Linked DNA regions of Homo sapiens: regions 1, 2, 4 and 5 are each linked to region 3. The links come from fine-mapping of genetic effects on gene expression. A gene starts in region 3. Each other region holds a variant in brackets. All regions are shown on one strand. Distances are from middle to middle.

Region 1 (6,383 bases), 260 kb before region 3:
CCAAGTGATCTTCCCAGCTTGGCCTTCCAAAGTGCTGGGATTACAGGTGTGAGCCATAGTGCTCGGCCAAGGAGGTCCAAACTTTTGTGGGTAAAAGTTTATACGGGATTGGAGCCTAATGATGTTGTCAGACTAACTACACTGATTCATGTTCTGGTGTTGAGTGGAGCCAAGACAAGGCATAGTAGCTGATCAAGACTGGCTCAGAGCAGTTATGCTTGGGAGAGGTGGACAACCCAACTGATGATGTCCAAGAAAGAGGCCTTTCCTGGAGGCTCTGTGGGGAACCTTGGTTAAAGGAGATTATCAACCAAATTCCTACTTTCCCCTTTGACCAAGGGTGGTGACTGGACCAGTCCAGGTTGAAGCAAGTGAGGTGCCTAGGGTGCAAAATTTAAGGAGGTACTCACTCTCAGGTGCAGGTCTGCAATTGTCCAACCCTGAGAATAATTGCCCCCTTAAATGTTGAGCCATAGGGGGCTCATTTGTGCCCCTTAGTCCCAGCCTCGTTTGGAGATAATTTTCTACTCTGTGTACTCATGAGCATGGGTAGGGTTAGTAGAAAAATATCAGGTGAAGCTCTGGGCCTGCCTGGCTCTTTGGGGAGATGGAGAATGATGCCTGCAACAGACTAGACTCTTCCTTAGTGTCAGCTTTCATCAGCCTTTCCTTCTTCTCAATTAGCCACTGTGAGCTGAGAGCTGAACTAAAAGTTGTCTGATACCAAAGTTGGGAATGCGACCATTCGCTGTTTTGTACTGATACACTAACACCTTTTATAATCCAGGTGTTCCTCATGACCTGGGTTAATCCATGTGTCCAGAAGCAAGCACTGTTACCGGCCCTGGAATCAGGAGAGGCAATGTGGGAAGACAACCATCTTAGGAACATCATGATTCTGACCAGGAAGATTTTCCAAGGGATGAGGGTTGGAGTAGAGGCAGAGAAGAACAGAGCATTTTTGTGGCATAACATCAAAAAGTAAGAAATGTAGAAGGCCACTTCCCTCGGGTCCTAAGAAGGCCTTACACTGCTCACCTGGTCTTCGTCCCCTCCCTTTTACACCCTGAAATCTCATCAGGGCCCACACTCTGAGCCAAACTTGCAAAGTAAATGCCTGCCTCTTTCCTGGAACCCCTAAGCCACTGGTTTCCAAGGCTGCCCTGGTGGGTCTCCCCATTTCACAGAGAGGAAAACTTGGGGCTGCCAGAAGCTGACCATCATTTGCTGAGAATTTTTATCTGGAAAAGCAGTTCATGGGGACTTTCATAATCAGTGGAAAAATGTTGTCCCTTTGCACATGATAAGTTCAAAACACTGCAGTATCTGCTTTCTGAATATTCTCCCTCTGTCTCCCCTCAGCACTTTGCAATTCCACATAAAGGCCCTCAGAAAAGGATTACTTACGTATCTGCAGGATAACCCTGAAAATATACTCCGCTGGCTGTTTTCATTGTTAAAACATGCTTAAATGAAAAAAAAAAAAAAAAAGAACTACAAAAGTAAAAATGAGTTTGAAGAGGTTTTGAAGGTATTAGAAATAAAAAGGCAAGCTTAAACTAAGGAATTGTATTTGTGGTTTCATTTCTTTCCACAAGGATTCCAGCTGTAGAGCTCTGTGTCTATCTAATAACTGACCTTCTCTTACACTGAGCAGAGAAGTTCACCAGCACTGATTTATTAAGAGGGTTTCTGCAAGGAGAATTCGCCCTCCAACACTTTTGCCCGGAGGGGATGAGAAGAATTTTTTTTAAACCCCAAACATGAAGCTCTTGGGTCTTCCAAATGAAATTATCTATGTTTTTATTAACTGGGCCCCTGAGTTAAAAAGTTGGTTTTGATAAGGGTGAATAAATGAAAGAGAAAACTGCTGACATAATATTTTGGTTTCCAAACCCACTTCCACATTCTACTGTCCCTCTCAGGCCCATACATGACTGTGGTTTCTCTATTTACACCAGAATCCTGGAGAGAAAGGTGCAGTTAATCCTGCTTTATGGTAAAATTCATCTCTAAACTTTAATAAAATGATCATAGTGACTCTTTTAAATGCTTTGGTATAAGTTTTGATTTTTCTAGACATGGAGTACTATATGATTTATAAATAATGCAGGCTTGTATTTTCCTTTTATTTTTATTTTTATTTTTATTTTTTTTGAGCAGAGTCTCACTCTGTCGCCCAGGCTGGAGTGTAGTGGTGCCGTCTTGGCTCACTGCAACCTCCACCTCCGGGGTTCAAGCAATTCTCCCACCTCAGCCTCCCAAGTGCCTGGGGCTACAGGCGCACACCACCACACCCAGCTAATTTTTGCATTCTTAGTAGGGACGGGGTTTCACCATGTGGGCCAGGCTGGTCTTGAACTCCTGACCTCAAGTAATCCACCCGCCTTGGCCTCCCAAAGTTCTGGGATTACAGGCGTGAGCCACTGCACCCAGCCTCTTTTCCATTCTTACAAGAGGAAAAGTAGATATTATGATGTCCAAGGTGTTCTATAGATTTAGGAGTAAAAAGATTCTAAATTTCTTATTTCTTACAAAGTTGAAAATTCTTCCTTTATTAATAGAAATGGGAAGGAAAGTGAGATTCATGCACTGTCTGGGCCAATCCCAGTGCCCTTTCTTTCTCTCTCTCTTTCTCTCTTTCTTTCATTTTTAGAGATGGGGTCTCACTGCATTGCCCAGGCTGGAGTGAAGTGGCTGTTCACAGGCACAATCATAGCTCTCTGTAGCCTCAAACTCCTGAGCTCAAGTTATATTCCCACGTCAGCCTCCCACGTAGCTGGAACTACAGTACAGGTATGTGCCACCACACTCGGCCAATTCCTTTCTTTTAGCACCCACCCAAACTGGAAAGCATGCATTTAAGCTGGTGTTAGAATATACTTTTCTTGGGCAATAATCCTCCTTGAAAAATCTAATGAACACTCTGACTCCTCCTTTTAACCATGGACCCCAGGTTAAAAACCCCCAAGAGAAAAAGTATGCTCACTTTGTATTAAACTTCAAGCTATGCTCTTTTACAGGTAAAGAAAAGCAGGCACGAAGACATGAATCTCAATCCCTTGAAGGCTGACCCTTGGCCTGGCACTCCAACCAGCAAACATCAGTCAGTGGTTCTCAGATGTGGTGT[G/A]CCTGAGAATGTCTGGGGAATAGATTAAAACGTAGGTCTCCAGGTATTACCTTGGAGATTATATAGGTCAAGGTGGGGCCTTATTTCTGTGGTGCTATGACAGAATATGTATTTTTAAGCAAAACTCCCCAGAGATTTTGATGCTAGTGATCCATAGTCCACACTTCTACGTGGTCATCCTATGGTCATGGAAATTTTATAAATAAATTAATTAAGTTGATAACGTAAATGAAAAAAATATATAAATACATTCATATGTCTCTGCTGTCCATGCTCTAAAGGAGCTGTGATTTCCTTTCCCCTCTTCTATTTTAAGATAAAAAGTATTTAGTAATCTGTCCTAAAGTGATCAAGCCTTTAGACATTGGCTATAGTGACTTTTCCAAAACAGGATGCCCACAATGGATGGAAAGAAAACATCTGTGTTCACAGTAACATAACACCCATCTGAACAGTCTATGGCATTATGGTCTCCAGGACCCATGATAAGATTAGGGTTTCCTGACCTGTGGCTAGTTTTGCAAGACATTTCTCTTCTATGTTTACTATCAACATTTCCAGATGTTTATTTTGCAATATTCCTAGTCTCCTAAAGTGACAATCATGAGGAGGGTACGCTGGGATGGGGGAAGGGATACCAGTGGTAACGGAGAAGTCTATTGCAAGGTACCCATCTACCACGACTCTGGCATACCTTGATTATTTTCTTGAACTTTAGTTACACATCAACAGTGGCCTCTGGATACTAATGATTGCACAGAGTTTCCTTCTCTGGGGATCTTCACCCATCACTCTCCCAAAAGGATGTTATCAATGTTTTTCAAAAGTCTTGAATTTGTAGGCTTGTAAAGAGCTACAGCACTTGAGAGGAGAAAGGGCCAGTCTATCCACAGACCCAAAAACACGAGTGACCCAGGAAGGAGAATGAGGATCGCGACCTGTGAGTCATCAAGGGCTGCATCTCCTGCTAAGTGGAAATTAAGTGTCTGAATTACAATGAGACTCCTTACATAATTTCTATTTGACCAACTCTTTGTCATATTAATACTGTCATAGCGCCACAGAAGCAGCCACGGAGACAGACAGCACACACACAAGCCCAGGGAATAGACAAAATGAAAAACCTTGATAGGTGCCGAATGTCTGGGAAAATAGTAACAGTAATAATGCAATAATCTGTGTGTAGATTTGGAGGAAGAGGCAGTGAACCTGAAAAATAATGATAGTTATGATGAAAGCAAAGAGGCCTCCTAACTAGTTCTTTGGTCATGTACTATCTTCTAGCCTAGGGCCACCAAGCCTATTTCATCCTGACCCTTGCTGGAGATTTTTATACCCCCTTACTCAGAGGAGCTTTGTGTTGACAGAAGAGACTCTCCAAGACATGGAGAATGAAGAGATAGTGATTGTTAGGAATGACACAAATATCTGAAGGAATTAGCTTTGGGGCAGTAATCCTCTTTAAAATTCTAGAGACTTTCAGAAATAAATAAGCTATAAATGCCTGTAACTCGCCCTTTCCATTTGGTAAAAATGTCCTTGGTGTTGACTTCTTATAGGCGAACCCAGAGTCTTCCTCATCTCAACTCTGCATTGCCAGAGCAATGCACCTTATCCCAAGCTGAAACAGGATCTCCCATATGAGCACCTTATCCCAAGCTGAAACAGGATCCACACTGCACCACTTTGCAAGGGTAGGTGGTTTTGAGTCTAGAAGGCCCCATAACTCAGTCTGAGGCAGTTCCGTCTTAATTTGTCAAAGTTTCTGTTATTTTAACAAAGGCTATTTGGTGTTACTTGATCCCTCCTGGCCTGGCCAAACCTCAGCACAATTGAGATCCTTTTGTTTCTCTCTCGTCTCCCCTTTCACTACCTCTCTCTGCATTTCCTGATACCCTCTTAATCCTCACTGGTTTCAAGTCATCTCACAAAAGACTTTAGCTGAGGAAGACAAATTTTCCTTATTTCATATACTGATAACGCAGGGAAAACCAAAGTCATAAGTTCTGAAGGTGGGCTCTGAAACACCAGGACAAAAGATGCTGGGGGCTGTGTTTTGTACAAGGATGCTGTTGAGTTCTTGGCTCTATTTCAGAGACACAGAAGGAAACAAAACAAACGAGATGCCAGACCTCAGGGAACCAGCATTCTAATGGGTCGAAAGAGATAATCAACACGTAAACAGCAAATACTCTTACTTTAGATCGTGATAATGGCTACAAAGAAAATAAAACATGGTGATGAGAGGGAGCATTGGATGTGGTGAAGACTCTTAGATCAAATATTTAGGCAACTCCCCTCCAAAGAGATGACATTTTACCTGAGGATTGATTAGTGAGAAGGAGCCACATATGGCTACAGGGAAGAGGTATACAGAGAGAACCACCTAGATAAATGCCCTAAGGCAGGAAGGAAATTGGTGTGTTTCATGCAGGAAAAGAAAGAAGACCTTGGAGGGAAGGAGAAAGAGAGGGAAAAGCGGTAACCTGGGAGAGGTAGGTGGAGTATTGCAAGTCACTACAGAGTTTCTATTTTAATTGGTGAGAAAAAGCCACTGGAAAGTCTAAAGAAGGGACTAGCATAATCTGATTTTTATTTTAAGAAAATTGCATTAATTGCTGTGTGGAGAACAGACTGTCAGAGGGAAAGAATTCGAGATTGGACAACAGGTAAGATATTTTGCAATAGTCTGGATGAGTAGTGATACAGGCTTGTGCCAACTGTGGTGAAGACGACTGTGATCACATGTGGTTTGAAAACGTCCAGAGTTTTGTTTTGGACATACAGGCAGAGGAATCAGGAGAACAGAGGGACAGGAACATCTGAGCTCAGCAGGTTGGTCTGCGCTGAAGACATCCAATGGGAATCAATTCTGATTGACTTTCTTTAAGGCCATAGGCAGTGTAAATCTCAGAAATGAGTCATGCAGGATACTCTCACAGTAAGAGGTGGGCAGAGAAGGATTAGCCAGCGACCTGGGAGGAAAACCAGGAAGTGGACAGGAAAGAGTCCTGGAAGCCAATGTCAGTACAACAGTCACTTCAGATGACTCCAAAGTACACATTTGTTAGACATCAACTATTCAGTAGCTCCTGCAGCTGGGTTCTGCTCAGGAAAGAGATTAAAAGTCAACTCACTCTCAGCTGAGTGGGAGAATAGTCCTCCTTCTACCTAACACCTTCCTGCAAACGCTCCATCCCTTTCCCCTATGGTTGAAAACATCAAGAAAGGGACTCTTGTAATGCAGAAAATT
Region 2 (6,383 bases), 120 kb before region 3:
TTTTCTCTGCAACATAGATGGGGAAATCAAGACACTCTATGAGGAGTGACTTGTGACAATAAATACTTCAGCAGGCACAAGAAAGACCCAGGGTCTCTGAGGGACCCATTTACAGCTCTGGGCTCAGAATTATGATTTGACCTGATGTGTTTTAATTAAGTTGTAACACAGTTTTCTCTTTTTTTCATTTTCCGTCCTTTTAGATTGGAAACCTGAAGAACATAACCAAGTTCTACCATGTAGGCTTTTGGTGGGACAGAAGTTAGCACAGCCCAACCAAGGAGAAAAAAAGGAGTGCAATAGAAATGGTTAGCCTAGGAGGGCAGAAAGAACCTTTCCTAGAAAATTCATGCTCACCACATCAATAGTATTCTTTTCTCCCTTTCTTCCTTCTTTTCTCCTTTCCATTACTTCTCTTCCTTTTTCCTTCCTTCCTTCTTGCCCTTTCTCTTTTCTCTTCCTTCCTTCCCTTCTCTTTTTCCTTCCTCCCTCTTTCTCTCCTATACAAATTAATTTGTATAACCACTACATAAATATTTGTTAAGATGATATAGTGTCTGAAAATCCAGGGTTTTTAAACAAGCATAAGTGAAGGAAAGTAAGGTAAATGAAAGAGGAAGTCGAGATGAAGAGAAGGAAATATTATGAGACTTCTACTCCCATTTTTTCCTTCCTTCTCTCCTTCCTTCCCTGCCTCCCTCTCTTCTTCCTTCTTTCCTTCCCTCCTCCTCCCTTCCTCCCTTCCACCTTTCCTCCCTTCCATCCTTCCCTCCTTCTTTCCTTCCCTCCCTCCCTCCCTCCTTTCACTTTTCCTAAAGAAATTGGTTTAACCACAGAGGACTATTTGCAGCCAGTAGAGGAAAAACCTCTACTATGTAATCCACAAGTATGAATGTTCCTGCAAAAAGACTTGAGTCTGTTACCAAATTGGGCCCGACCTAGCCTTCCTTGTAAGGCTGCCTTCGTGTGACCACACTGGGCCTTAAAGAGCCGGTGTAGATGGGGTGACCATGGGACAGCAAAGGGGCCACAATATCCCATTGCCTAATTCACCAGGACCAGCAGGAACCAGAGATGCGAGCTGCAGTCCGCAAGCCCTCAGGTAAGAAACACATGGCCAAGGATGAGTACATTTCTAAATATAAATAAATAACTGGGAGGTGATACGGGACATCAGGGCCTTGAGAACTCAGACTCCAGAGTCAAACTATTAGGTTCAAACCTGGGCTTTCTCACTTAGAAGGCCTGTTACCCTGAGAAAGTCACTTTATCCCTCTGGGCCTGTTTTCTGGTCTCCAAAATGGGGACATAATAGCGTGTACCTCATAGGGTTATTGTGAGGATTACAAAAATTAATTTCTATAAGCACTACATAAATATTTGTTAAGATGATGATGCAGATGGTGTCTGAAAATCCAGGGTTTTTAAACAAGCATAAGTGAAGGAAAGTAAGGTAAATGAAAGAGGAAGTCGAGATGAAGAGAAGGAAATATTATCTGAGACTCCTGTTTGAAAATTCTCATGTTTGGAGAAAAGTGGCTGCAGAAGAAGTGCCCTGTTACACTGGGATGCTGGCTGGAATTGTCATCTTGCTCAGTAATAACTCTGAGAGGCCCCACGATTACAGGAGGGATTGCCTCAATTGCTACATAGCTTACAAGATGTTTTCCCTTCAGCCTAAGGCAAGGGGTCCACCCAGCCCTTCTCCTCCACTGGGAGAGGGAGGGGCTGAGCTGGAGAGGGCTCGCGGGGGAGGACGCAGGGTGGGCTGAGACACAGAGGCCAGAGCATCTATTGCCCTTCCTAGAAGGCAGGGCCTCCTCATCCTACTCAATAAAGACTTCCTTGTTTTTCAGCACACAGAGTAATCTCTGAAAGACTGCACTCCAATTTGAAAATGAGCCAAGAGCCAGTGGGAAATTCTCCAGCAAATTGCACAGGGAGACAATAATACGAAGGGCAAGTGGATCAAAGCGTCCTTATTTTTTTCTTCTGGAAATTCCTATTCCTGAGGCCTGAGGCCCTGTGGGTCTGAGACTCTTCCCCCCAGTGTTGTCAGGATCATAGTGTTCACAAAATAGATACAGATTTGCTTTTCCAGGGTTGGGATGACAGGATCTAGGTTCTCAGAACATAACTGAAAATCAACTCATGTCAAAAGTAAATGTTGGAGTCCTGCATATGCCCTGTCATTCTGACTCATGTTTACACTTGGTTTTTATTTCAAAAAAAGATGTTAAGCCAGCCTATGTAGCACCATTTAGGAGAAGAGGAGGAAGAAGAGGAGGACAAGGATGATTCCCCTCAAGAGCTCTGACTTGGGATGGGAACCTCACAATATATTCAGGTTTGGTTGCTGTATCAAGAAGTAAAAGAATTTCAAGCTCCTTTAAAACAGAAGAGGAGGCAGCCTCTGCCCAATACAGGACTGAGCTCATTGAAAACTTCTCAGAGGACATGATGTAAAATGGAGAGCTCAAAAACCCGTAAAAATAACCCTTAGCCTTTTAGAAATTATAAGTGGGGAACTTAGTTCTTACCCAGTAGAATTTTAAAATGCTATGTCCTTCCGGAAATCCTGTGGTGCTTTCTGAAATGACTTACTGACAGTATGACTGAAGTCAGTGTCTCCATGCAAAGTGCAGGTACGCACGACAGGAAAGGACAGCAACTGTGCGGGGACAGGTATGGTCACCAGAGTGTCCATGTGTCTTATGGCCCGGAACAAGTTATGCGGTCTCGCCATCCCTTCTGTCACTGGGGACAATTACTTTTTTTCCCTAAAGTTTATGATGTCCACATGTTTATAAAGGTTAAGGGAGGTAGATTTAAAAAGTCTGGTCTTGCTTCGTTACACAAGCTTTGACTTCCCGTTTCCTTAAAGGCTGGCTCTTTCTTTTTTTCTTTTTGAGATGGAGTCTTGCTCTGTTGCCCAGGCTGGAGTGCAATGGTACGATATCGGCTCACTGCTACCTCCGCCTTCCAGTGTGCACCACCACACCCGGCTAATTTTTGTATTTTCAGTAGAGACAGGGTTTCACCATCATGGTCAGGCTGGTCTTGAACTCCTGACCTCATGATCCAAGCCTGGCTCTTTCAACAAGCATCCTATGTCTCTAACTGTGGGACATTTTATGTCATAAGTGGATCTTCCCACTCCTGTGTTCTCACATCTTATTATGTGCTAAACACAGTTCTAAGTTATT[T/C]CCCACAGTAACTCTTGTCTAAGGGGTTGGTGCTATTACTGTTATCCCATTTGACAGATGAGAACACTTAGGGTGAGAGGTATAGTAACTTCCTATGATTACATAGCTGGCAAAAGCTGGGATACAAACATAGATCTTTTGGCTTGGAATTCTGTGCTCTTACCACTATGTTATCCTGCTGATCAAATGAACAAAGTTCTTGCTTTAGCCTAATGTGTTTGTAGTTGTAGTAAATAAAATATACCAATTTTCAATTACTTTGTTAGTTCCTTTTTCTCCATTTCCTTAAAAAACAAAAACAAACAAACAAACAAAGAAAACCTTCCGATCCACGAGACCCGAGGCACTGTTGGTCTGGGACTCTTTCCCTCTGAAGTTGTCACGATGACACTGTTCACAAAGTAGAGGCAGATTTGCTTTTCCAGGGTTGGGGTGCCAGGAGCTGTATTAGATCTCTGGATAACAATTTTGCAATGCAGCTGCTGCATAACAAATTACCACAAAATTTCGTGGCTTAAAACAACATTTATTATCTCACGGTTTCTCTATGTCAGGAATTCAGCAGCAGCTTAGCTGGATGGTCCTGGCTCAGGCACTCTTATGAGGTTGCAGTCAAGATATCAGCCAGGGCTATATTCATCTGAAGGTTTGACCGGGACTGGAGGATCTGCTTCCAAGATGAGTCTCTCCTATAGCTGTTTGGCAGGGGGCTTCAGCTCCTGGCCACGTGGACCTCTCCACAGGGCTGCTTGAGTGTCCTCATAGCATGGCTCTGGCTTCCCCAACCCCTACAGAACCCTGTTTCACAAATGTTGGTGTCTTGCGTTGAAGTAATAATTTTCCACTGACAAAGTTTTAGCCTCAGTTTTTATTTATTTTTTGAGACGGAGTCTTGCTCCGTTGCCAGGCTGGAGTGCAGTGGCACAATCTCAGCTCACTGCAACCTCCGCCTCCTGGGTTCAAACGATTCTCCTACCTCAGCCTCCCGAGTAGCTGGGAGTACAGGTGCGTGCCACCACACCCGGCTAATTTTTTGTATTTTAATAGAGACAGGGTTTCACCATGTTAGCCAGGATGGTCTCGATCTCCTGACCTCGTGATCTGCCCACCTCAGCCTCCCTAAGTGCTGGGATTACAGGCGTGAGCCCCCACGCCCGGCTAGCCTCAGTTTTTAGTTAGGGTCTCCATACCCCTCTCTGTTGGCCTGGTTTCAGAATTCCTATGTAAAGTAAAAGTTTAATGAGTCTATGAGATGGTGTTACGTGTTGCATTGTATCCCTCCTTTTCAAATTCATATATTGATGTTCTAATCCCCAGGACCTCAGAATGTGACCTTGTTTGGCAACAGGGTCATCACAGATGTAATTAGTTAAGATGAGGTCATTCCGGAGGAGGGTAGGCTCCCAATCTATCATGAGTGGTGTCCTTATGAAAAGGGGAAATGTGGACACAGACACACACAGGATGAACACCATATGAACATGAAGGTGGAGACTGGAGTGATGCATCTACAAGTAACACCAGAGATGGCCAGCAAAACACTCGAAGCCAGGAGGGAGGCTTGGAGCAGTGCCTCCTTCAAAGCTCTCAGAAGAAATCAGCCTTGCCAACACCTTGATCTCGGACTTCAAGCATCCAGAGCTGTGAGGCAACACATTTCTGTTGTTCTAAGCCACCCAGTCTAGGGTACTTTATTACCGAAGCCATGGGGAATTAAGAGATGAAAAGAAAAAAAAACCTAGAGACCAAGAGACTATATAAGACAAGCAGGCCTGGTTACTTTGCACCCATGGATTGACCATGGGGCTTTCCCCAAAACATTATATTGTGCCTCTTCCCCGCCACCCACTGGGAAAAAAAAACAACATTTGACCTTCAAAAAGCACATTCCCCAGTAAAACTGGCAAAAACTCAGAATAGACAGTCAAGGTTTCCTGATCTCACCCAAGAAAATGGAAATTTTATTACATTCCACGACCACAAGGTTTTTCCTAAGCTCATTAAGCATATTTTTCCCGCAGAAGATCTTGTCTTAATAAGGCCACCACTATCCCTTTCCTCTGGCCTCCATCATCAGCCAGGATAAAAGGCAGGACTGCGGGTGGAGATGAGTGGGGACTCTAGAGAGTTCCAGCACTGCTTGTTTATTTTGAGACACACTTGCGCTTCTACTTGGGCCATCACAACTGTGGTCAAAGGACTCGGAATCTGAAGAACACAAACAAAGCTAACTATGGCGAAAAGCCAGGGTAAAGTTTTCTTCAGCAGCGTAGAGGGAGGGCCATTTTGCATAGCCTTTTATATGATAATCGCAGCTCCTTCATCTGTATTGAACTTTGCAGCAAGAAGGAAAAATAAATAAGGCTGACTAATGGCTTGTTTCCCCAAAGGCAGCTTTTTATGGGATCATATGTTTTTTCAGCTTTTCAGTCACAGTTTCCTGCCTGGACATTAGGAGCCCTTGACATTGGCTATGGCTTCGTGCACCCTGGACGACAGCCCAAGCTGCCCCTGAGCAGCTCGACTAGGGTCCAGCTGGACCACGGCCCCTTCCTAGGTCTCAGTGATGGTGAACCTTGTTCCCTTTGATAAGCTGCACACAGCAGCATGTCTTTCAACACCTTCCAGGTCAAGCATGGCTCCTCTTATCTGACGGGCGAGGAAAACCAATGTGGGTTGGATCAGAAGCCTGGATCCGGAGCCTGTGACAGTGTGTACCAATTCAAAAGCAATCACAAAAGCGACTCTGAATTGCTTTTGCTCCTGTTCTATTCACCACTGCTCCTTCCAAAGTCAGAGGGGACTTTTAGAATTGGGCAGTCTTGAGTTTAAATCCCAGCTCTGCCATTGGATGACTAAGGACAAATAGCTTAATCTCTGAGTTCATTTCTTATCAGGAAAATTATAAGTGATAAAACCTGCCTCATGGAGCTGTGATGATAAGAGATAATTTTGCAAGATATCTGGCAAATAGTAGGTGCTCAGTAAACAATAGCTGGTGTGATTATCAGGTGTCCCAAATAGCCTCACCGTAGAAGAAACTTTCCTGGCAGATTAACGTATAGAAAGGTAAAGCAAAGTGTGTTGGAGCTGAGCATGTCTTGAAGTTGGGTTGAGGAAACAAACAAGCAAAACATGACAGTCTTCCAGCTGTCTCTGTGCAGCTTTCACTTGATT
Region 3 (6,383 bases):
CCCGTTTCTCTATTTGACAAAAAAGGTTATTTATTTTAACTTTAAATAATATTTCAGATCCCGTCCTCACAGATAATAGAGAAAAGACAGGTAGTAGAGAAAGTCACTGCCTTGTTCTTGAGACAGTCTTTCAGACCATTTTTAGTCCTGCCTGGTTTTTACTCTCAAATGAAATCTGGATGGTGTGGTTTTACAGGGTATGTCTCATAACAATGATGAAAAAAGGAGAATTTAAGTTAAAATTAATTAAGGAGGCCCTTATTAGAAAAAATAACATTGCAGATATTATATAAGAATGAATGAAATAGAAACTACAGTTTTTATGATTAAGGTGTTCATTCCAAAGATCTGATAAAAATTTGTCTTTGAAAGATTAGTCATCAAAAGGCTTGAAAAGAGTGAAGGATACAAAGTCATAGGTTATGCCCCATTCCTGACAAGGGCATTTATGGCAGGAGCACCCGACCTGGAGGCAGGGACCAGGCTTCTCAGCCTGGTTTGGCTCTCTCTAGCTCTGGGCCTTGGGTGAGCCAGGGGTCTCTTCTGTAAAATGAAAAATTGGTCTATCAATCCGAGGCCCTCCCCTAGCCCTACCATCCGTGTAAAGCCATAAGCCTTTGTAACTCACCATCAGAATCTCTAGGCCTAAAAGAACTCCCTCTAAAATCAGTTCTAGTCAAACGCCAGCCTGGTAGTTTTCAATCCTTGTTAAGGATTGAAATCCTAAAATCTTTTTAGGGTTAAGATCAGAAATGTAACCTTAAGGAAATAGAAGAAAGCAGCTGAAATACATATTTTTAAAGTGATAAACTGATTCTGATCTATTTCTCAGGGGGTGAGGGGGAAGGCAATACAGTGAACTTGGAAAAAAGAAATATTGAAATGTCAATATAATATCTTTTATGGGTTCAAGAATTTATCCTAAACTTTATCTTTTACTGTGACAGTCCCAGAGTCCTCAATAAGAGCTTCAAAAATTTTAGTGGGGTTTCTGGAAGAGTGCTATCACTATCTGGAAATTTCTAAAAGGCTTCTCTCTTTTTATAAAAAAAAAAATTCCTATGTTAAATCTATGATTTGTGATTCTCAACAATGGAATACTAATGGATACTCAAAAAACACTAATTGCTCATTTTTTTCCTAATTACGAAATGTAATAATTCTTTAGTGAAAACATTAAACATGATGTCATTTTTAAAGTGCCAGACTTTGTATTTAAAGCATTGCCACAAAATAGATAGCTTACTTATTTTACAAATAGCAACACAAAAAGGGTCTTCTGTGTCTTTAAGTCTGTTTAGCATATCTGAAAGTGCTTCTTCCTCACACTTAGATATTTAAGGCAATTGCCCCCCAGTTTATTACCTTATCTCAATTGTATAATTTTCTTAAATAGAATTCAGAGAAATAGTCATAGATTTAAATTTTTAAACACTAATTAAGCATTGGTTGATTCCCATAATACAGCTGGTAGTCAAAGTGGACAAGATAATGAATTGACTGAGATCACTGTTCCATCTTCATCCAAGAAAGCTGCCTCTAAAAAAAAAAAAGACCTTAAATTGCTGTAGAAATCCAATTTGTAAGAAGCAAAAGAAGCATATAGATGGGAAACACCAGCCAGGATCACATTAATTTTGTGACTAACTGCATTGCTTAGAAGAAGAAGAAGGAGAAGGAGAAGGAGAAGAAAGAAAAGATGACAAAAATAATAAGTCCACTCAAATCCCAATTTTAATCCAACAACATAACCAGAAGAAAATGAACTACAAATACAAAGTTCACATCTTAGTGATCTAGTGAACACTACACACCGACAAAATAATTTTTAGCTTAGTAAGAAGTAAACTCCAATGACAAGAAAATATTATAGGATTGTGATACCTCATTGCTAAAAAGTAGATTATAGTAAGAAATTGGGAGTCTAGGAACTTGCCATCATGGAAACTCCATGATTGATTGGTTTTGAATGTGCAGGTGTGGGAAACTGACAAATCATTGTAACAAAAATCTTAAACTTACTAGAATTGAAAATCTATGCAGGAAAAGTCTCTGTGACAAACTACCATTCATTTAGCCACCTATTCAAATAAAAGCTGTGACATAACAGAGATCTAGAAATAAGGGCATGGTTTCCAATTTTTTGTTGGAATGTTCTAATAAACTATCTTCTCAGGTATCAACTATATAAGGTCACGACTGACCGCTAATTGACAGGCAATTTATCGGCACCAGCAATTTACATTAAAAATAGTGGGCTTGGAGATATTTTCAAATATGTTTACTATGAGTTAAGTTGAAAAATAAAAACCACTATAATCAGTAAGGATTTAAAAATAAGAGATCCATATAAAATGCTATAAGCAAAGGAAAATGAGAAACATTTCTGGGGAGACACAAGTGAGTTTTATTATACTTCTTCTTTTAAGTTTTAGAACTAAAGTAATAGTTGATATTCAACCCATAGAATCATCCTTCAGGGGCATACACATCTAGGTTTGAATGCGGAAAACTGTTTTATTGTTTTTTTTTAATTTTTAGGTTTCTTTTTCAAGAACTTTCTTATTAAAACTTAAATACTTATTGAAGTGATTCATGAAACCTCACAGAAAGGGGAATTCATGCTTGACACATTACTTAACATGCTCCATAGCTTCCCCACTGTAGTTCATATGCTTCTGAACATATTTTACCTGGGAAATAATAGTCTTATTCACACACACACACACACACACACACACACACACATCCTTCCACATAAAATGCTATAAGTCCCAGGAAACTGACAAAAGCAACATTAAAATTTTGTGCAAAATCTAAACTCCATTTCTGAATTCCATCTATGAAAATACAACATTGGTTCTATTTAACTAAGTGCAAAGTTTTCTCTCTGTTTAATATGCATAATAAACATCATCCTTACCATTATCTGTAGAATAAAAGCAGCAACGTGTTGCTTCCTGCAGTCACCAAATCAAGTTTTTTCTTCCTTTCTTTCTAGTAACTTCTGTTTCACCAGCAAGATTAGGAAGAAAATAAGTCTTGAGTATTTGCCTCAGTATTTCAGACCAGAAGATAGTGAAACTAGCTTTTAGTAAAAAGAACAGGTCTGGTATTTTACAATTACTTCTGCAACCCAGAGGTACCTCCTAGACTCTGGTACCTCCCTCGTTCTCTAAGTTTCTTTTAGTAATGAGACTAATTTTTCCAGTAGTCTTGAACTCCCTAGATTTAACTGACATGGAAAATGTGACTAAAAATTTGTGGAACTGTCTAGCCTCCAACCCTACACAGAATCAACTTTGTTGTAAATGTTGAAGAACACCTCGCAAGCAGCTACATGCTCAGTTTATACTCCTGCGCTACGCAGCAGAGAACACCAAATAACAGTGCGCCATCTAGTTAGCAAGCTGCAATCTCCATGCTAGAAGGGGGGACACTTTCAAACCCTGGGAGTTAAGAACTTGTCAGGGTTCAGCTGCTCTAAAGGTCCAATTGTTTGTTTAAATAAAAAAAAATATCGCTACTGAGATAATCCACATCTAGTGGATATGGGAAAATTTAGGTTATAATGGCACTACAAACTTTTACATCTAACTTTGATTTACAAGATAAAAGCAAGTTTTAAATTAAAAGGGCTTTCTGTTAATAGAGCTTATTATTCTGAAGACGGGAATGATTTTCTTCGAAAGTTGTCCCTGGGTGCATGCCTATTATCTTTGCTTTTCCCCTTCCACTAATGAGCATTTATCTAAAGAGCCTGTTAATCCTCTGATGTGTGCTTCTGGTCAGAGGTAACAGTTTGAATAAAACCACTAATCACTGATCACTAAATCACTGATCATTAATCACACTTTCCAGTGCCCATGACTGGGCCATTTTTTTTCCTTTAAGTCTATGCATCACAAACAAGAAGTTCAACATTTTCGATGCACATATATTGTGTGGAGGTTACACTATTTCATCTCTAGATGTGAATAAATACTAAATCCTGCCACAGACTTGGGGAAGGATGTCAATTAGACCCCAGACAGGAGTTTCACAAATGCCTACCCTACAGCATGGCTTTCGCTTTGAAGAAAGTAGATCTAATTATAAGAAAACATGTGTTCTTCAAGAAATTCCCACATATTTGCAATATAAACTTTTCTTTATTTAGTTTTCACCAACTCCAAATCAGGGACCACTCCAATCCCCTCTCTCCCTCTATCCAAAACTCTGTTAATACTTTTTTAAATTTAATTTCTGCTGCACACCTCCCTCACGCCCCCACCCCCCCACCCCCCACACCGAGGGTTCTTTTTACTTTGATCCCTTGCAACAAGTCATACACAGGGTCTTTATTTCAACTGCCAGATACGGAGGTTCTGACTCAGTTCAATGACTTACGTATTCGACTTCCTCTTTCAACATAGAAACTTAAGGTTAAGAGCTAGAAACTAACGCACGCAGCAATTTATTGTATGGAAGTTTAGGTTCAACGACTCACATTCCCTCACTTTGGAAATGAAACGTTTAGTCTTGATCCTTTCAGCTAAACCTGATTTTGTCAGCATCCCTCTTCTGCTAAAGGGCAGGCACTACGTAAAGTGAAATACTTTGTTTGCAGTGGGTGTATTGCTTTCCTAAGTCACCACCACGAGGACAGAGTATTATCATAACGCTTGCAAACATTTCCTGATTTGCCTTTTCTATCAGGACTAAGCATTTTCGCCCTAGAGGAGAAGGCTTACTGGTGCCTTTCTTAAATAATACAAAAGGGCGGATTGCGCGCTGATCAGGTACAGTGGTCCCCTCAGACCCCAGAAGCTTTTACCCACACTCCAGGGACCGTGCTCGCCCCAGGGAAAGCTGTAAAAAGGCGGGGGCGGGGCTAGAGTGATAACGGTGTAGACGGGGGAGTGGTGGAGAGGGAGGGGCTGGGAAGAGAGGGCAATAAAGATGCCCAGGGAGCCGGCGATTGCACGAGTGTGTTGTGGGGAGGGTAGGGGGATGCAAAGCAGAGTTGCTTTGTCAGCATTCTAAGCTCCTGAACCCTTGAGGAGCTCAAGCCGTTAATCAAACACTTACTGGCCTGCAGAATGACGTAATGGACCTGTATCCAGTCTTTATTCCTTGACACATGTCAGAGAAGGAGGGAAAAATAAAAATCAAACACATTCTGCAGACTGACAACGAAATATACAAGTAGCCCGCTCCAGTCCCCGGCCTTGAGCAAGCATCAAGTGGGGGCGGCACCGGTCCAGGGAAAGTTGGGGATGGGGGTGAGAGTGTGGACAAGGTCTAGGGCTTTATCTACCAGACGCCCCTTAAAAATAAATCTATGGCAAAGAAGAAGCGGGATGCAGCTGCTGAGAGAAAACATCTCCTTGGTTCCTTCCTTCGCATCTTGCCCCTCTAAGAACTTCGTGAAAAGTTCAAGTGATTCTGCCGAGAATCTGCCGCAGGGGGAGACTCCGCCGCCAGGTCTTGGGAATTGCCTGGGCGCCGCCAAAGCTCGAGCCGGAGCTGTCATTTGGGGCAGCGGCCGGGAAGAGGTAACGATGCCAGCAAGAAAGCAGCGGAGGCAGGAGGCGGCCGGAGGAGTGGACTGGAGCGGACGGAGCCTCGCCGCTCTCCAGCCCGGAGCGCCTGGAGCGAAAGCCAAGCGCCCTCCGAGGGCGACCTCCCCTCCCCGGGCGCGCGCCCACCCGCTGCAGCCGGCAGCCCGGCGGGAGAGGTGGCAGCTGCAGCTCCGCACCGGGGAGAGCGAGCCCCCTGCGCGCGCGCCCACCCGCCCCCTAGGTGACCCGGCGTCCTCGCCGCGCCCGCTGGAAGTTTGCAAACTTTCTCCGGGGGTTCCGCCGCCACGCTGGGAAGCTGGGGACGCGGGGGGAGGTTCCTGGCTCGCCGTCTCCGCTGCCGCTTGACCGCACTTCTGGAGGGCTCCGCACCTTGCCAGGTCTCTGGAGGCAAACACACACCCCCGATTCATAACTGGTCCCCGCGTCAGGGGACTCGCGCGCTCCCACACACGCACGCACGCCGGGCGGACTCGGCGCCGGCTCCACGTTAGCATCCCTCCAGGCGCGCGGCGCGGCGGCCACCGAGCGCTCCGGCACTCACGCGGCGCGGGGTCTCTAGGGTGGCCTCAGGACACAGCCGAATTCCACAGTCTACCAGCACTCGGGGCCGGACTTCCCTCTGGTCCGCCAAAATGTTTACAAACACAGATCACCCTCCAGAAAAAAATGCATCGCATCTTCCCTACTCCTTGCCCTGTGACCTGCCCACTGGACCAAGTAACCTCGCGGCTGCTGCCGAGAACCAACCCCTGCAAACAAGTACACTCCCGAGATGGCTCCTGCGGCAAGTGCAACAAAAGTGGCTAAATGCAAAAGCCC
Region 4 (6,383 bases), 97 kb after region 3:
ATTAGGAGATGCCATTTTCTTCCTTTCCCTCCACTGGAGTTTTTCCTTATGGCTCCCTCTCCTTCTCAAGCTGGGGAACAGGTCTCAAGGTACATTCTAGGCCCTGACCTTAAAGAAACCAGAAAAGAGTATTGGAATGACCCCATATGTCACTCCACCCACTGACTTAGTACATTTAACATACAGATAAGCGGGCTTCCTTTAGTCGAATTGCTTGAAGTGCCACAGATAGAATGTCAGTCCAGAATCAAAATCTATTGAGTAGATGATATTTGGGAGGACTTTTCTGGTACTTTTTGTTTTTCTTCCCCACATAATTATTTCCAGGTGTTATATTATCAATCTACAGAAGCCTAAGCAATTTGATTTTGATGAGCCTTGAAATTCTTCCTCTTCAATGTAGCAGCATAGGATGCTGTATTTACGATGATATTCTGTGCCTCTTCTAAGAGTCTAGTATTTCATTCTGTAGAACTAGATGCAGGACATTTTAGGCACGATCCCTGAACCAGGAACTGGTTCTGTCTCTCAGTCTCTTTCAGCCTGAACATGCCTCCTGGGTCAAGCCATGTGGTCCAACTCCTGTCTCAGGCAACCCTGAGAGTGAGGCATTGTAGCAGAGAAGGGAGGCTCTATAGAGAATCAGTGATGTTGGAAATATGTGTATTGTTAGTCATACTTTTTCTAAAATGAATAATACATTTTCAATTTAACCCACCAATGCCTCAAGGCATGCAGTAAACATATTTTGAAACTTAGAAAATAATTTTGTATACTTTTACAAGTAGCACCTATTCATTTTTGCAGCACACTTTTGTCTTGCATGGATATTCCTAGAACATCTGCATCTTATTTGCTGAGGCATCATTATTGCCGCCTGTTCTTGGAACCAATACATTGCAGATTGGCTACGTCAATAATACAACATTCATGTATCAAATTGAACAGCCCTCTGTGGTAATCTGAACTGAGGGAATGAGCTTAATATCATAGGATTTGTAGAAGAAACATAGGCTGTGGTAGATTGGAATGTCAGAATCATTCCAAACTTAAAATTCTAGGAATAAATACTAGGAATGTCTGGCAGGTTTTAAAATCAGATAACTTCATATATTTGGAAAACAATTGGCTAGAAATATAAGAATTTATTGGAAATTTGGGAATATTGTTTTGGTATTACTGGCAAATTTCAGAAGTGTATTTGGAAATTTCTTTAAAGGACTTAAAGAGCTTTAAATAGATTCAAGAGCCATCTTTCTCTGCTGATAGTTGACCAATGTTTCAAATACTGAATGGCCATCTACTCTATGGTACAATTACACTGCAGTCATTCCATACAGAACTCAACAAATAGAGACAGTGTCCTTCTCCTAAGGTGCTTAGAGCTGAAATGAAGAGATTAGCCTGACATGTACGGAACAATAATATAAAACACACTGTACATTATTATTGAAAAATATTTACTGATGTTTACCAATGTGCAGTGCACTGTGCTAATTACATAGATTACCTAATTTAATTCTCTCAACACAATGAAGGAAGAAGATAAATAGGAATCAAACAAGTAAATGAATATGCCCCAAATTACATAATTGTAGATTGTGAAGCTGAGCTTTAAGCCACGTCTGTCTGAATAAATGCAAATCCATTGCTTTTAGCTCCTGTGTTCTTTTGCCTCTTGATGCCTATACCACAGCGTCAACTATTGCTGCCTTAGAAATTCAGAGATGAGGAAGTCAAGGCTATTAGGAAGATGCCTCTTCCCCTGCCCACTCAAAGTGTGTTTTGAACTTTGAAGTTTATGGGATACCCCAGGTGGAATGAAGGAAAAACTGCCTGTTTGCTCTTTGTCACGTGGTAAACAACAGCCAGAAATCCACCTCTGATTCAAAGGTTTTCACTGCTGGTGCCCACCCTGGTTTCACACTGATGAAGAGTTCTCTGCATTACACTTTCCTGGGGTAATCTGAACCCTCCTTTTCTGTGTGAGATGTCAGTTTACACCATGCAACAGGGAGAAACTGAAACTGAACCAGAAATATGGGCAGCAGAATGCAAAAAATCATCAGATAAATACTGCCAGGGAGGAGATGGGATGGGTCTCCTTTTGTATTTCTGCCAAGTACCTATGTGGGCGTCAGTTCTATAAGTATCAAGTATGCCAGCCAGAGAAGACAACCATTAAATCAAGACTTACCTTCAGAATGAAAATCTTACATTTTATGGTAGGCGAAGTCATATTTATTGTTGACCCAACAGTGTATCTGCTCTTTCAACAATCTTCAAGACAAGTATTATCATCCCCCTTTTAAAGGTTAGGATATGGAGGCTTGGAGAAGCCACAGGAACCCAGCTGCCATGTACCATATACATTCTGCACTGTGAATCAGTGAGGAGATTTTGAAAGTATTCTGAAATGTAACCACAGTTAGAGCTGTTGACTCAATCATGCTGTACTAAGCAGTAGAATTTTCAGCTAGAAAATAGGATGTAACTCTGCCAGTTATACACTAAGAAAAATGAAATGCCCTAGTTGAGTAAATCTCTGAAACCACACACTGGGGACTTCCTGGGCCTTGTTGCTCAGGCTTTTGGCAGGAGCGATACGAGATGCCCAATGGATGGCAGACACTGCCAGGATCTGGCGGTGCATTTCTGCAGCATTCACTGACTCCTAACAAAGACAATATTTAGTTCCCAAGCTCCCTATCCTGATTGATTTGTCTCTTTCTTTTTTTCCTCTCTCCTTTTTGCTCCCAATTTAAATTATAAACTATTTATTACTGACACATCCTTTTTTTCTGGCCCAGCAGTGTCCCCGGGCCAGCTTTTTGGCTCAGGTTTTCCCAGGCATTGTCAGGCATTTCCCTGGCTCCAATGACTCCAATGTTTGTCTGCAAGTGCTCCAGGCAGATGTCTGAAAATCACCCACTGACAGATTTACGTTCATCAACCTCTGCAACACCCTCCACCCCCAGCCCAAACCATATCATACTTGTGGGTGAAAGCACTTGAAGGCCAAGTTCACCAAGTCCTCTCAAGCACATGCAAAACTAAGCCAC[A/G]GAATCGCAATGGCATCCCACCCGCCTCCTCGGCAATGCACATTTCCCCGGCCTGTTTTCTACTCAAGATCTGGAACAACTTGGGTCTCCAGGTTTTTGAAACAAGATTAAAAGGTCTCTTTTACAGCACTTGCCGAAAAACTCCCCGGAGGAAATGTGGTTGGCAGGTAAAAAAAACCAGGACCTGTCTCCTTGAAAATCACAGCTGTGTTATCTTTTTCCTCCACTGATCACTTCCAGATTATCACCAGGGCAGCCAGCCAGTGAGCCAGTCCTCCGTGTCCCAGAGCCCGACTCTGGCAATAGCTCATTTCCCCACAGAAGGGAACACATTGGAAGATATATAGCTGGGTGATGTGCAGAGCCCAGGGAGGAAGAACTTGTTAATGAGTGTGACTTTGCCACCGAGGCAAGTCCACACAGGAAGGTGAATTAAGAGCTGGTGCAGCAGGACGTTTTCCAACGCGTCGGGACGAGGTCAAACACAAAAGAACCCTTTCTGGGAGGAAAGAAGATTGAAACTGTAGGGAAAAACAAAATGAAAACACACCCCATGTGAACCTCACAATGATGAAATCTGTTGTTGGAGAACAGAGTCCTTCATTCAGTGTCTCCTGTCTGCTTTTGCAGAACAAGTTTTCTGCAGCACCCGGCTGGAAGCGTCTTCTTGTCCAGAGTTCTCTGGCACCTGCCCATTGCTCAGGTCCAACCAAGAGAAGCGGCTAACAGAAGGCAACCTCAGCTTCGGACAACTGCTGCAAACAGAGTCATCATAGTGACTTTTTCCGAAAAAATAAAATTGTCAAATCAGGACCCTGGCTGGTCAGAAGTCTGTTTTTAACAAAATTCATTAAACTGGCAACATAGTAGGAATGCCAGCTTATGTGGGAAGGATTTGTGCTGTAGTCCCTGTTGGTGGTGACAATACAAATGAATTGTGCCCACAGGAAGTCGTTGCCTTGGCAAGAATCATCAGGAAATTGACATATACATTGAGCCATTTATTCACCCAGCGTCTGTTCCATACCTTGTATAGGCTGGGACCACACTAAACACCAAGGATAAGATAAGATACCCTTATCTCCTACTGACTTCAAGGGCTTGGATTAGCAGCTCCCAAACAGTGCTTTGAGGCATACCAGTCTTGAGGCAGGAAAATATGTTCCTGTCACTGGAATATGGTTAGAAAAATGCTACATTAAACAAAGTTGAACAGTTTTCTCTACTGTTAGGCTTTCTACAGCCTTCAACACGCTGATGTGCCCATTGGCAGCAGTTGCCAAATTTACTGACCGTACAGCACTTTTCTACAACATACTTCTGAAGGTCAAATTGCACACCGGTGATCCAGTTGGGGAAGAACTGTCTCAGTAAAGCGTCTCAGTAAAGAGACACTGGGGACCTGGAGCAAGATTCCCCTTCAGGAAGTGCCCTTCTGGTTTTCTTTCCCTTGGGGTAGTGTGTCGCTGCTCACTAAGCCTTACCCCAAAGTATATGAACTATGATACTGGCATGTCTTGGTCATCAGACACTGTGCTGTGTGTGTTGTCTGTATCTTCACATTATATATCACAATAATCTGTGTGGCAGATGTTACTCTCCTGGTTTTGACCAGACAATGAAAATGAAGCTCAGAGATACTGAAGAACACAAAGCCATCGTGCTTTCAAGCTCCATAGGACTAAGATTCATGCCCTATAATCAGCAGCAAGAAATCAACCATTTTAACTTGGAGCAAGTGATGAAGATGGATGATAAAGACAGCACCATCTCCAAGGAAAAAGTAATGAATGTTCTAATACTTGAATTTCCAGCCTTTGAATGTAGGAGGGCACTGTCATCTCATCTTGAAGTGTTTTCCTAAAACATGTCTGGTTTAACAGGACTGTTGTGCTTTTAATCATTAATTAAGCTTTTTCACCAAACCTGCACAAAACAATCTCCATGATCTTTCTTCACATAGCTACAAGAAACATCAGGATCGCTGCACTTCAAAGGCAGTGAATACCTGCTTTTTCCTTGGAAACATAGATATGTTTCCTTAAAAATGAGACCCTGGCCAAAGCTCCACTAGAAAAATCAGCCCTTAATAATTCTCTTATTCTTTTCTGAAACATTCTGCAAACTTTTATGGGGGTTGCTTTGGCATGGCCAATATTTTTTCAGTGGTGTCAATGTTTTATGCTTACCTATTTCTATTAAAATTATATATTTTTGCAGCTCCCAATAAAACTCATTGTATGGTATGCTAGAATAAATCTCAAAATCTCCCTGAAGTGCTAGAAACTTTCAGATATATGTCTATTAAATTTTTATTTCTTCAGCAAGTGGCGTGTGTGCCAAAATATGCATTTCGTTGCTGAAATGGTCACAAGTCCACAAAGCTGTGTTAAAACCGTGAAGGGGTATTGAGTTGTCCATCACTAGAAATCTACATCCATTGAGTGAGGAGTGGTTTTTCAGTGGTTATTCCCACCTTCCACAGAAATCCCTGAACTGGTTGTTCACCTGTACATCTCCCATCCCCGAAACACACTGGGCACTCAAAATACATTTGCTCAATTGAAGTTGTTTTCCCAGGAATAGATCAGATTCTTTCCTCCTTAGAATGGCTTGAGGTTTTTGCCATAGTATCAGACTGCCAATACAGTCAGGTTGTCTTTTATCCTTAGGACAGTGAATCACAGACCAAAAGTAATAAAAATACTTTCTGTTAAAACTATGATGAATAAAATTTAACTCTACTGTCAAAAGGGCAAGACAAACAGCCTATAGGTAAAAGGGATAGGAAAACAGGTTTCAGGTTCATATGAGAAGGAACTTTCCATCAGATTAAGTGTGTTCGTGCTTCAGGCTCTCGGAAGATGGCATGAGCAGGCTCATGAAGCAGGAAGTTCTCTGACACTAGAGGTATTCAAGCACCATCTAGATCAGTGGTTCTCAAACAGTGGTGCCCAGACGAGCAGTATCAATAACAGCTGCGTACATACTAGAAATGAAATTTCTCAAGACCCGTCCCAGACCTACTAATTCAGAAACTCTGGGATTGAGGTTCAGCACTCTCAGTTTTAGTAACTCCAATGTCTGCTGGAGCTTGAGAAACACCGACCTAAACTACCACTGGTCAAGAATACTGCAGGGAGCATTCAACCATCAGATAGGAGATTGAACTGGATGGCCATTCAATTCTGTAATTTCACAAGTCTCATAAGGTTCTTTGGTCTGCATTATTTTCTTTTTGGAATGAGAAACTGATGCTCTACCAACACTCAGGCTTGACCACTGGCAACACTATGAGTTATGGAAAGAGAACTGGAATAC
Region 5 (6,383 bases), 270 kb before region 3:
CATAATGAATGATATCCAAAACATGCGTTAAATAAATAGACACCTTTCTGGTATGTGCCGCATGCCTCAATATGCATCCAGCTGTAGGATGATCACGTCTAAATAAGCCCAAGAGAAGTTTTGAAGTTCCCAGAATGAGAAAGTGTTTGCCCTCTTGTTTTAGTGGGTTTCAGTTTATTACTATCTAGTAATGCCGGATGGTGTCAGAAAGCACCCAACTCAGGCAGCATATCACAATACGAAATCTATTCTATGAAACAGAAATGTGGTAATAATTTTCAAAACATCAAAGTCTCTCTCTCTGAGTACACGAGATCCTTAAAACATTAAGAACACAATCCTTTGCCCCCTCTCCCTGTATTTCCTGTTAATTTCTTACTCTGAAATATTAACTGTTTCTAAGACAACTCAATCAAGAAGTCTTCATCATCGCCCCCTCACTACTGAAGCATATCATCTAAAAAATTAATTCAAGAACATAAAAGTCTTAAAGATAGCACCGGATTAATTAGCACGTGGAACAACAGAATGTCAACATGCTCAAGCAAATGCACAATTGCTGTTAACCTTCACTGAAATAATAGGGGAAAGGCTATAACTACTTTTGAGGATCATCATCTATTACTTTTAAAAGCTGCAGTATATTCTTAATAATAAATGGAACAGCACAATCATTCACTTTTCATACAACACACAGTTTTCCAGTCATTTACAATTCACCAGTTACACTCAAAAATCGCCCCCCCAACCCCCCAACCAACCACCACACCATCACTTCCACCTTTTATGAAAAGACAACAGTTTTAAGCCATTTAAAAAACAGAGAGAGAGAATCCTGGCAGAAAATAATACACAGCTGTGATAATATCGTGTTATTTTAAAATACCATAATATAGTTTTACTTTTAATAATAAAAGATAAAAAAGGAGCGTCTGTGAATAATTAGAGATTGCAGTCTGAAGCCGGTTACAGTCACTGCAATTGATAATAAACTGAAAACCCCTTGAGAGCAGGTAAATGCTTTGCAACCCTGACCCCCTCGCTCTCACATTACTTAACTACCCTTCGGTTCTTGCATTACATCACCATTCAAGCGATTGGTTCCTGCATTTTAACTCTCTCCCTGTCTCCTCCGATTAGGAGCGACACCGCAGCAAAGAAACTTCGCCCGAGTTTGCTCTTTCTCGCTTCGCTCTTTATTTGTGGCCCTTTTGCTCTGGTTGCTTTGGTTTGCTCTGCTTTTTTTTTTTTTTCTTTTTTCCTCCAACCCGGCCTCTGTTCAACTCATTCAGGTCTCTGTGCTAGAACAAAAACTCTGATCGAAGTGAAAAGAAATGCCTCTTCGGGCAAGAAGAGGAGCGGAGGGGCTGGGGAAAGAGGAGAAGGAAGAAGAGGAGAAACAAAGACGGGCAGAAAGGGAGAAGGGGGAGAAAATGAAGAGGAGGAGGAGGAGGACGAAGGCTCAAAAACAGAAGGCAGTAGGGGCAAAAAAAATCTATAAAATCAGGAGAAAAGAAAATAAAATTAAAAACAAACCTCATGGACATCACTGAGGCTGAATTCCCTCCTGAGGTGCAGAACATGAGAGCTCTGGAATGAGTGTGTGTAGAATTTGAGCCAAAGCTTAACTAGCTTGAGTGAGTCATATCCTTCCCATTTGATTCCAGGCCAAGCGATGATGTAATGTGCTGGCCCTTCTTTTGCGCCTAGCTCTGGCTCTCCCTCCGGCTGGGCTCTCGCTCACTTGCTCTCTTTCTCCTGGTCTCGCCCTCCTCCCCCTTCTCCTTTTTAGCTCAGTGCTAGTGAAGTCACCACTTAAATCTGGCAGAACTGAAGCAAAAACTTCAATGTAACCAAAACAGCCCCAGGCTGAGTTCCAGGCTCGGAGAGCCTTCGTGGTGCACTTGCCCTTAGAAACGGGTAAACAAAGGGGGAAACAGTGCCGCTGGGGATGGCCCTACAGCTGCCATCAGAGAGCTCCAAGAGGGACCCGGAGTTCTGCAGGCAGGGGTCAGCTGGTTCTGCTGGAAACAAAAAAAAAATACTGGTTAAAAAAAAAAAAAAAAAAGAGTGCCCTGTGTTTGGAGAAAGGGAAATAACATCAAGACACGTGTAGAGATGGGGAAGCAGGGAGTGAAAGATGGCAGGTTGGAAGGTCTGAGTGTGAAAAACTAACCTCAGTTAGCAGCTTGGGCTTTGGTTCAGAACCAGGTGACAGGGTTTCCATCGCCCAGGGCCCTTTTTTCCTGGAGCTGGATGGGATTTTCTGTTGCTGAATGCCAACCACCAGCCCTCCGGAGACTTCTCGCATCTGACCTCCCTGTCAGCGAGGGCAAAACCACTTCTGGTCCAAACACGTGCCCGTGTCTGGAGCCACCAAGGGCTGTGAAATCACAGTCACTTCTCCCTTGGCCCCTATGGGTCACCCTGTCAGGTGCTAAAGGAAAAAGACCCCAGCCACAAAACACAAAACTTGCCTTTCTGAGATTAGCACTCCACCCTCAGGTGAACCTTCCAAAGGAGAGGGAAGGAAGACAAGTTCTCCCTTAAAATGAAAGACAGGCTGTGCCCCCACAACTCAACTCGCTGGAGGGGGTGCTGGTGTGGGTGGGGCCGTCTGTGACTTTAAAGAGGAGAACAGACAGTATGTGTGTCTCTTTTTTAATTACAGAGTGAGGAAAAACAGCCTGGGGAGGTGGGGGCAGTCAAGCATGATCCTTCACAAATGACAGTGAAGCCTTTTTAATGGCTGAATTCTACCCCTCACTTCACACCTCCCCACTCAGGGCTCCACCACGACAATGACAACAGTCCAGACACTACTCTATTAGCAGGGCTTTTTAACCCCATCATCTCTCCGTTTTGCTATTTCTCCCCACACTTCATGTTTCCTTCAAAAAGAAAAAAGTAACATGAAAATGGGAAGTTCGCTAGAATTTTTTTTAAATACCACAAAAGCAGAAGAAAGGCATGAAG[C/A]TGCAATTTTTTTTTCCTTTTCCAAAAATGACCATGGCTTGTGCTACAGTCTATTGCCCCTAATGCCTTTTGTGGCCAATGAATCAGGTAGATAAGACAAACATTGTCTCTGCACGTTGCAAAGCACAGAGGATCTTGACTTCTAAACTGTGTTTTTGGAGAAATCTCTCAGCTTATTAAAGACGTCCACTGATGGAGGTCAGGGATATTCATCTGAATCCCCTGGAATTTAAATCACAGCTTCAGGGAGTGTTGCCGTACTCAGGGTGAAGAGTTAAAAAGCAATATTTGCCCAAGGGTCTCCAGGACCCTGGGGGTTGGGGTGGGGAAGTGCTTTCTCCAGCAAGCTGCCCTTTGGCTTGACATCCTCAATTGATGCTGATGCCACAGTAGCTCCGAGTGACACCTTTATCAAGGCAGGCAGCTCTGAATTAGAGGTGATCAGCCATAATTACAGCTGGCGCCACTGAAGCCTGTGGCCTGACAGCGGCAAATGTGGTTGTTATAAAGTTTGGTCCACCATGTCAGTGGCCTGTATAACTCATTTACGTCTGACTTGCCAAGCAGACATTGATTTTTCTTCTGCTAAGGGGAATAAATAAAACAAAATTTTCAATAACTTCTACAAGCCTTTACACTTCAAGGCAGGTTGGCAAGATTTTGCATAAGCTACTTTTTCCTTTTTAAATGAGCCATTGACCATCTTGGTTAATATCAAGCTATGGACTTTCACTTTCCCTTCCCTACCCCCCAAATCTCCCCTCCCCACTTTAGTTTTCTTATTTAAATGTTTTATTTATGTTACTATTTTTGGTGCAAAATGGATATGTGGTAGAGTTTTCCAAATTTACATCTTTTTGTAAGCTCAATGGGAAAATGTTCTCTGTAGGATTTTCCTTATACCACATTAGAGGGCCGGGGTGAATCCACTAGATACCAGGCTTCTGCTGTTTTTCAGTGACATAGGCAAAAGGGACCCTGTGCTTTAAATAGAGGTGATGTAAAGATGGCTTTCCTGTGCCTTGCTTGGGAAGTAACAAAGGAGATGATAGCTTCAGCCAATGCCGGGCACGGATCTCAGATGAGACCCGCCAGCATCATTGCTTCTGCCAGGAGGAGTAAGAGAACAAGAGGTTTGAAGGTGGCCAGTGTGCCTCTGATCAGGGAGTGACATCGCCAATGGGTACAGTGTTTCTAAAACCCAGACAAATGCCAAGGACCCAGAAATGTCTGGGTCTGATGATGACGCCGTTAAGCCACCAACGTGCCAGAACACTTCGACATCCCAATAAAACAACTTTGGAGTGCTGGCCTGAATTGAAATCAATTTCAGAGTTCAAAGGTCTGCATATTTACATTTGCACTTGTTGTTCGGGACATAACTATTCCCTCCTGCCCCTTCCAAATCAGGCATTCCACTGGCTGCTGGGTGCCTCCCCACTTGAAAAGAAGCCCTACTTTCCCATTTTCCTTCCTGTGAGCAGCTAAAGAGAGACAAGATCCTGTTCCCAAAAAGAAATGCCCCTCTGACTCAAGAGATTCCTTTTTCACCCATTTGGCCTTCTCCCCTACCCCATGTCCTAGCTGCTCCTCTGAAGAAGGGGGGCTTCGTAGATAGAAGTCATAAGATGCTGTAATTCCAGAGGGAGGCTTCTTAGAAGTAGCCCCCGGCCAACAGGCTAGGTCTCCAGATTAGCTGGCTTGCTCAGGAATGCTTACAACACCCTCCTTTGCAGAGCGTGTCATCCTTGGGGAGAGGGTGGTGGGTACCGCGCAGCTGTTCGGTGTAACTCACTCACACACTCCCAGCCCCTGATGAAATGTTCGGCTCCGAAGAAGTGGAAACCTTTGAGATTTGAGCTCAGAGTTCAGAATGCTTTTGGACTCTTTCCAAATAACCCAATAGAAAAGGCACAACTTGGATTGCAGGGATGGAGGGGCTCAACAGCCAACTAGAGTAGACCTTTTGTGTGCCTGGGTGAATTTCTGAGCTCAAACACGTTATGAGAAACATAGCAAATATGAGAAACAATGGAGATCCTTCCTAGAGAGAGCTGGGGTTTCCCCCCCCCCCCACTTTTAGGTTTGAATTTATTCTCCTCAAGGAAAAGTATATCATCTTCTTTCAAATGTTGTTTTTAAAATTTAACCCAAGATTTCTACAGTCCCGGTGGAGTTTGAGGGGCCAGATAATTTCAGAGTTAAATAAGCTGTAATGACTATCACATGTACCCAGCCATAAACCTAGTATTAAAAATTATTCAGAAAAAAGTGGCATCTCTTCCTTTTTTAATTTACAATAACCATCCAGGTGGTTTTCTAAGTCCTCCTTTGCAAATTGCTTCCAGTGAACCCTCTGGTCACAGACCACTGCACACCCACATGGTGTCATTCAGCATTCCCTTCGACCTGGGTGTCCCGTGTTTTCACAGTGGACAGAGGATGAGGGGCCGCCTAGGTGACCTGGTGCAGCATGCATCCTGAACCATGTGCAGGCAGGATTCACTGGCTTAAATTGTCAGCCCTGCTGAAGTCAGCTCCAGGTGCTCCCAGAGAGAAGACAAGGGAGTGATCTGCCCTTGGTGACTCCTGTCGTGTAACTACTGCACCTCCTATACCCCAACCCTGGCACTAAGTACCCTTAGGCAATTCACTGGCCTTTCCTGTGTCAAAACCTATTTGTAATTCACGGATGTGGCAATGCTGAATGTGTCTCAAACAAAGGAATGAATTTATAATGGTGGAGGCATCAGGAAACCTTTGGGGGTGGATATTAAGAGGTCACAAGAGCCATTTGATTAGCCCTAAAATATTGTCATCAATTCTGCTTCCTATAGTGTTTTTTCTCTAACTTCTTAAAATGTGCAAGTCATTGTACCACTTAAACCTAAACCAATGTCTGAAAGACCGTTGACACTCCTGGAATATTTGTTGAATAAATGAATGAGTGAATGAATGAATACAATCCTCAGCTCAGGCATTATCTTTTCCATGGTCTCCTTGCTGGGCTACCAGACTGGGATAAGGGTGGCCATTACTCTGTGCTCCTTTGGCGTCCTGAAGCAGATTGTATCCCAGCAATAAGCCAGCTATGGAGAGGATCTCTTCATGCTTGTCTTCTTCAGCAGCCATTTGCTTCTCCAGGGCAGAGACTGTGCTATACATCTTCATTTCCCTAGCACCTAGCACCTGGCCCATACATAGTAGGTCCCTAAGAAATGTGACTGGGACTGGGCGTGGTGGCATACATCTATAGTCCTGCTACTGGGGCTGAGGTGGAGGATCACTTGAGCCCAGGAGTTCAAGACTACAGTGAGGCATGATCGCACCACTGCACTCCAGGCTGGGAGACAGAGCAAGATTCTGTCTCTAATAATGATAATGATAATAATAGTAATAAATTAATT

Which allele goes with the higher level. Alleles are on the strand shown, and positions count from the first base shown. SD is a standard deviation of normalised expression in the study named. Not every link is listed here.
With allele C in place of T in region 2, the expression in tibial nerve of the gene that starts at base 3,323 in region 3 is higher (moderate effect, 0.47 SD a copy in GTEx).
In carriers of allele A in region 4, the expression in fibroblasts of the gene that starts at base 3,323 in region 3 tends to be lower than with G alone (moderate effect, 0.59 SD a copy in GTEx).

The links. PIP is the estimated chance that this variant, and not a neighbour inherited with it, causes the effect.
Region 1: its variant is fine-mapped to the expression of CREB5 in whole blood (INTERVAL, PIP 0.94).
Region 2: its variant is fine-mapped to the expression of CREB5 in tibial nerve (GTEx, PIP 0.99).
Region 4: its variant is fine-mapped to the expression of CREB5 in fibroblasts (GTEx, PIP above 0.99).
Region 5: its variant is fine-mapped to the expression of CREB5 in whole blood (TOPMed, PIP above 0.99). The same link has a PIP of 0.9 or more in blood mononuclear cells, monocytes, monocytes after interferon gamma and neutrophils.

What each region holds. Positions count from the first base shown.
Region 1 is chr7:28,674,161-28,680,543 of GRCh38, reverse strand. The region is part of intron 5 of CREB5 (cAMP responsive element binding protein 5); the gene reads right to left. Among named protein-coding and RNA genes, the nearest start is that of CREB5, 260 kb to the right of the region's middle. The variant G/A (reference allele first, on the strand shown) is at 3,131.
Region 2 is chr7:28,529,732-28,536,114 of GRCh38, reverse strand. The region is part of intron 4 of CREB5 (cAMP responsive element binding protein 5); the gene reads right to left. Among named protein-coding and RNA genes, the nearest start is that of CREB5, 120 kb to the right of the region's middle. The variant T/C (reference allele first, on the strand shown) is at 3,207.
Region 3 is chr7:28,409,458-28,415,840 of GRCh38, reverse strand. CREB5 (cAMP responsive element binding protein 5) reads right to left here and starts at 3,323. Exons shown (of 11, transcript NM_182898.4): 1 at 2,924-3,323. The coding sequence starts at 2,926. RefSeq lists an enhancer at 3,237-3,326.
Region 4 is chr7:28,312,813-28,319,195 of GRCh38, reverse strand. It overlaps a transcript of CREB5 not described here. Among named protein-coding and RNA genes, the nearest start is that of CREB5, 97 kb to the left of the region's middle. The variant A/G (reference allele first, on the strand shown) is at 3,063.
Region 5 is chr7:28,681,351-28,687,733 of GRCh38, reverse strand. The region is part of intron 5 of CREB5 (cAMP responsive element binding protein 5); the gene reads right to left. Among named protein-coding and RNA genes, the nearest start is that of CREB5, 270 kb to the right of the region's middle. RefSeq lists enhancers at 1,807-2,315, 2,532-2,581 and a silencer at 2,254-2,423. The variant C/A (reference allele first, on the strand shown) is at 2,977.